Linked DNA regions of Homo sapiens: region 2 is linked to region 1. The links come from fine-mapping of genetic effects on gene expression. A gene starts in region 1. The other region holds a variant in brackets. All regions are shown on one strand. Distances are between the middles of the regions.

Region 1 (2,913 bases):
GAACAGAAAACACAAGATTGGCTTTGATATTTTGCAAGATAGAAATTCCATTCTGAACAACTGACTTACTGTTTATGCTTGAATCTTTTTTTGTTTTTTTTTTTTTTGGAGACAGAGTCTTGCTCTGTCACCCAGGCTGGAGTGCAGTGGCGTAATATCGACTCATCGCAACCTCCGCCTCCCAGGTTCAAGCGATTCTCATGCCTCAGCCTCCTTAGTAGCTGGGATTACAGGCATGCACCACCACGCCCAGTTCATTTTTGTATTTTTTAGTAGAGATGGGTTTTGCCATGTTGGCCAGGCTGGTCGTGAACTCCTGACCTCCGGTTATCTGCCCGCCTCAGCCTCCCAAAAGTGCTGGGATTACAGGTATGAGCCACCATGCCCGGCCTATGCTTGACTCTTTTATTAGTTGGAGCTGTTAATATTAATAACTTCACCAGGTCAGACAGGTTGAGTGGTAAGTTTGCTGATAGGTTTGATGGCTGCTTCTGAGACCCAGACCCAAAATCTAGGTTTAGCTACGTTAAGAAGGCAACCACTACAGATAAGTGTCCAATCATGAGATCTCTTAAAACAATGATGGAGTCCAACCCTGTTAGGAAAATCCTTTTGCTAGACAGAGAATCTCAGATCTCTTTCCTCCTGGTCATTATGTCTTGGGCTAAAAGGAGGACATTTAACATTTATTGTATGCCAAACAGTGCTAGGCCATTCCGCATGTTATCTTATTTAATCCTCATAATTTATCTATGAAATATTTTCTGTTGTCCCCATTTATAATTCCAAGTTGTTTTTTTTTAACCTTCCCAGACTTTATATCTGCTACCTCTCCGCCTAGAATAGTGTTATGCCTCCTTTTTGCATAATGAATGCCTACTTATTCCTCAGAGCTCATGTCAGATGGTACTATTTTAAGGAAGCCTTCCCAGTCCCCTAGGTTTGTTTCCCTATTAAACTGATCAAAGGCTTGATTCCCTGTTACACTTCACTGATCAAAGTGCACTGATCTCAATAGCACAAATAACAATGCGATTACTCATTTAATATCTGTCATTTCTGCTGAAGTGTAAGCTTCATGAGCACAGTAACTGTGCCTGTATCATTTTTCTATGTTACTTGTAGTGCCAACTATAGTTCCTTGTTCAGTAAGTAATTATTATATGATTATGGCAAATAAATTCCATAAACAGAAGTTGAACGCTGGTCCACTGTAACTTCAAAACCTTCCTTCAAATTATACCATGTGCAGGACCTAAGAAGTCGAGGAAGTATTTCTTAATAAAATTACTCCAGAGGCTCTTCCTGAACTCTATTTCAGTTCTAGGTTGGCTACCTAACGATAAAAGTTAAGCATTAATTTTATGTGGTTAGGGTGTGGTCTGAGATAGAGAACCTAAAGTCTTTAAAGTCTCCCCAGTTCCAAGTAGGTAATCCTTCTGAGAAGTCCCACCTTTCTGAGCAGCTGTGTTTGAAGAAAGCTAGTGGGAAAAGTTCCAGGATTACATGTCAGGAAACTACAAGAGGTAGAAACATTTGTTGATTTACCAGTGTTTTTAACTTCCTGCTGGGCTGAAAACTGCTTGTTTCGTGGAAAAGCAAAACTTGACAGCAAACATCTAAAATGAAGAGCTCCCAAACTTTTGAGGAACAAACGGAATGCATTGTGAACACTCTACTCATGGACTTCTTGAGCCCAACATTGCAGGTTGCCAGCCGGAACCTATGCTGTGTAGATGAAGTAGATTCAGGTAAGGTTCCTGCCCTAGGCGGTGATTGCAGGTCAATAAGAGTATGTTTTCAGCCGGGCGCAGTGACTGATTCCCGTAATCCCAGCACTTTGGGAGGCCAAGGTGGGTGGATCACCTGAAGTCAGGGGTTTGAGATCCGCCTGGCCAACGTGGTGAAACCCCATCTCTACTAAAAGTAGAAAAATTAGCCAGGTGTGGTGGCTCATGCCTGCAGTCCCAGCTACATGGGAGACTGAGGCATGAGAATTGCTTGAACCTGGGAGGCGGAGGTTGCAGTGAGCTGAGATCACGCCACTGCACTCCAGTCTGGGCGACAGAGACTCGGTCTCAAAAAAAAAAAAACAGTATATTTTATTTATTTCCTTTAAGTTTCAAAAGGCAAACTCTAAGCTTTCAGTAACACCTAAAGCGAAAGAGGTTCTCAATGAAGGGAAACTTTCTGACTATTGGTGTTGACAGAACATTTAAGCTCTTGGGAGATCATGATATGAAAATTATTTAAAAGACAAGACAAATTTTTCTCATTGCCCAGATTCCTGGGACTTGCCATTGCTTCAAGCATTGTAACAAATGTGTTCCCTCTGTCATAGGAGAGCCTTGTTCTTTTGATGTGGCTATCATTGCTGGTCGCCTTCGGATGTTGGGTGACCAGTTCAACGGAGAATTGGAAGCTTCTGCCAAAAACGTCATTGCAGAAACCATTAAGGGACAGGTCAAGTTTCTACTTCATGCTATTGTTTGCTGCTTTTTTTTCTATTTCAAACTTCCTTTTCTTACTACTCCCATACTACAGTGACTAGGAATGTTCTATGAAAATATTTGGGTGCTTATATTTCAAGGAAGTATAGCAAGAATTCTCCAATTGCTAAAACCTAAGTGGTACAGAGATGGAAAATTTTGGGCATAGGCTGATGAACCTTCAGTTTGTCTCTACTTGGTCTTCATCACAGCTGTTGTGCTTAGTGTGCACAGAGCACATTTATAACACTTTATTCTTGGCAAAGTATAGTATCTTTTTTTTTTTTTTTTTTTTCAGACAGGGTCTTACTGTGTCACCCAGGCTCAAGTGCAGTGGTGTGATCTCAGCTCACTGCAGCCTCCACCTCCTGGGCTCAAGCGATCCTCCCACTGCAGCCTCCTGAGTAGCTGGGACTTCAGGCAA
Region 2 (2,913 bases), 760 kb before region 1:
AAAAAGTTCAAATGGTCAGAAAATGATTGCTTCCTAACTACCCATCTCCTACAATTTGAGGAAGAGAACTATAGCCTGCCCACCCCCCATTTGAGAAAAGGGGGCTGGACAGAGAATAAGAGTCAATTGTGTAACTTTCAAATTCACATTATTGCAGTGCATGTGTGAGGGGAGGGCTTGTATATAGATGTATGTATAGCAGGTATATAGATATATGTATATCCTTTTTAAAAAGTGTATTGAAAATTGTTTTTCCACTTGCTTTTCCCCACTTTTATTTTGGACATCTTTGCATATCTGCATACAGATCTCTACCTCATCCTTTTTAATAGTTGCATAGCATTCAGTCAGGGTGCTGTGTTTGATTGGGTAGTTTGTGCATTACACACAGGCATCCAGCCAAGGAGCTGAAATCAAGCCCAAGGTCCACTTGCCAATACTCTGTGCCAGTCGGCTCCCTCCTAGGATGCTTTCCTCACCTTGTCCTGACTCTTACAACCCCGCACCAGGCCATCTATCAGCCTGGATACCCTCCTCATTCTGCTGAAGCTCTAACATCCCATGCTGGGCTACCCCTCTGTGGGACTGCACTCCTTACCTTGTTTAGGCTCTGATACTTCCACAGTAGGCAGCCCTCCTACACAGATGCTCTCCTTACCTTGCTCCTTAGCATGAGGCAAGTGTGCCTGCCTTACTTACTCTGCTTTGCCTAATTAGGGCCAAATTGTTCAGGAAGAAGAGTTGGAAATAACTTTTCCTTTTTCTTTCTTTTTTGAGTCAAAATCTCACTCTGTCACCCAGGCTAGAGTGCAGTGGCGTGATCTCAGCTCTGCAGGATCCGCCTCCCAACTTCAAGTCATTCTCCTGCCTCAGCCTCCCAAGTAGCTGGGATTATAGGCACATGCCACCATGCCCAGCTAATTTTTGTATTTTTAGTAGAGATGGGGTTTCACCATGTTGGCCAGGCTGGTCTCGAACTCCTGACCTCAGGTGATCTGCCCACCTCAGCCTCCCAAAGTGCTGGGATTACAGGCACTTTTTACTTTTATTTTTTATTTTTAGGGACAGTCTTGCTCCATTGCCCAGGCTGGAGTGCAGTGGTGCAATCATGGCTCACTGTAGCCTCCAGCTCCTGGGCTCAAGTGATCCACCTGCCTTAGCCTCCTGAGTATCTGGGACTACAGGCACATGTTTCATACTTGGCGTGTGTGTGTGTGTGTGTGTGTGTGTGTGT[A/GTA]TGTGTAGGGAAGGTCTCACTGTGTTGCCCAGGCTGGTCTCAAACTCTTAGCCTCAAGTGATCCTCCTGCCTTGGCCTCCCAAAGTGCTGGGTTTACAGGTGTAAGCCACCATGCCTAGCCCTTACTATGTTTTGTTGTTGGTTTTGTTTTGTTTTGTTTTGAGATGGAGTCTCGAGTCTCACTGTGTCGCCCAGGCTGGAGTGCAGCAGCACGATCTCGGCTCACTGCAACCTCCACCTCCTGAGTTCAAGTGATTCTCCTGCCTCAGCCTCCCAAGTAGCTGGGACTACAGGCGCTTGCCACCACACCCAGCTAATGCCCTTACTGTGTTTTAAATGGCACTGTGAAGGATACGAGATGTATTTAATGTCCATGTTACTGCAGTTTTACTTTTGTTGCTCTTTTATTGTCAAATGAGATAAAATATGCAAAGGATATATAATTTTGTAATGTCATTTGAAAATTTGAGAAATACATCTTCTGGATTTTAAGCTTTAGAATGAAATAGAAAGTTACATTGTACAATTGTTATGAATGTGTGTTTCTTAAGAAAGCCTGTTATGTCTGTAGTCTGAAATTCTTTTTTTTTTTTTTTTTTTTTTGAGACGGAGTCTCGCTCTGTCGCCCAGGCTGGAGTGCAGTGGCGCAATCTCAGCTCACTGCAAGCTCCACCTCCTGGGTTTGCGCCATTCTCCTGCCTCAGCCTCCTGAGTAGCTGGGACTACAGGCGCCCGCCACTATGCCTGGCTAAATTTTTTTTTTTTTTTGTATTTTTAGTAGAGACAGCATTTCACTGCATTAGCCAGGATGGTCTCGATCTCCTGACCTCGTGATCCATCCGCCTCGGCCTCCCAAAGTGCTGGGATTACAGGCGTGAGCCACCGCACCCAGCCATAGTCTGAAATTCTTGAAAATTGCTGAAATTCTTGAAAATTGCATCTTTTTTTTTTTTAAGACAGAATTTCGCTCTTATTGCCCAGGTTGGCGTGCAATGGCATGATCTCAGCCCACTGCAACCTCCGCCTCCTGGGTTCAAGCGATTCTCCTGCCTCAGCCTCCTGAGTAACTGGGATTACAGGCGTGCAACACCACGCCTGGCTAATTTTTTATATTTTTAGTAGAAACAGGGTTTCACCACGTTAGCCAGGCTGGTCTTGAACTCCTCACCTCAGGTGATCCACCCACCTCGGCCTCCCAAAGTGCTGGGATTACAGGCATGAGCCACCGAGTCTGGCCAAAATTGCATCATTTTATATAACTCTGAATGAAAAAAAGCAGGATACAATTATGTATACACTGTAATTGCATCTGTATAAAAATGTGCTTAAAAAACAGAAGATACACCAAAATGTCCCAGTGACCATGTTGGAGGTAGTAGACTTACGGGTATTTTTCTCCTGTTTCCTCTATTTTCAAAATTTCTGAAAAGTAGTAGTATTACTTTGTGACTTTTAAAACTTTTTTTTATTGCTTCTTTTTAGCTTTTGGAAAATTTCTTCAACCTTTGAATACTTTAGTAATGATTTTGCTGCCTTTATTTTTCAGTGTCTTGCTAAGAATTTACCAAGTCTGAATTTGTGGTTTAAAAACTAGGTTTTATTGTCCAGGCGTATTGGCTCAAAATTTATAATACCAACACTTTGGAAAGCTGAGGCAGGAGGATTGAGCCCAAGAGTTC

Direction of the effects. Positions count from the first base shown, and alleles are read on the strand shown. Sizes are in standard deviations (SD) of each study's normalised expression.
As copies of A replace GTA in region 2, the expression in subcutaneous fat of the gene that starts at base 1,419 in region 1 goes up (small effect, 0.33 SD a copy in TwinsUK).

The links. PIP is the estimated chance that this variant, and not a neighbour inherited with it, causes the effect.
Region 2: its variant is the best candidate, but not a certain one, in a credible set for the expression of BCL2L15 in subcutaneous fat (TwinsUK, PIP 0.82).

What each region holds. Positions count from the first base shown.
Region 1 is chr1:113,886,087-113,888,999 of GRCh38, reverse strand. It overlaps BCL2L15 (BCL2 like 15), which reads left to right and starts at 1,419. Exons shown (of 4, transcript NM_001010922.3): 1 at 1,419-1,751; 2 at 2,342-2,463. The coding sequence starts at 1,625. The region is part of intron 3 of AP4B1-AS1 (AP4B1 antisense RNA 1); the gene reads right to left.
Region 2 is chr1:114,649,598-114,652,510 of GRCh38, reverse strand. The region is part of intron 2 of DENND2C (DENN domain containing 2C); the gene reads left to right. Among named protein-coding and RNA genes, the nearest start is that of DENND2C, 19 kb to the left of the region's middle. The variant A/GTA (reference allele first, on the strand shown) is at 1,235.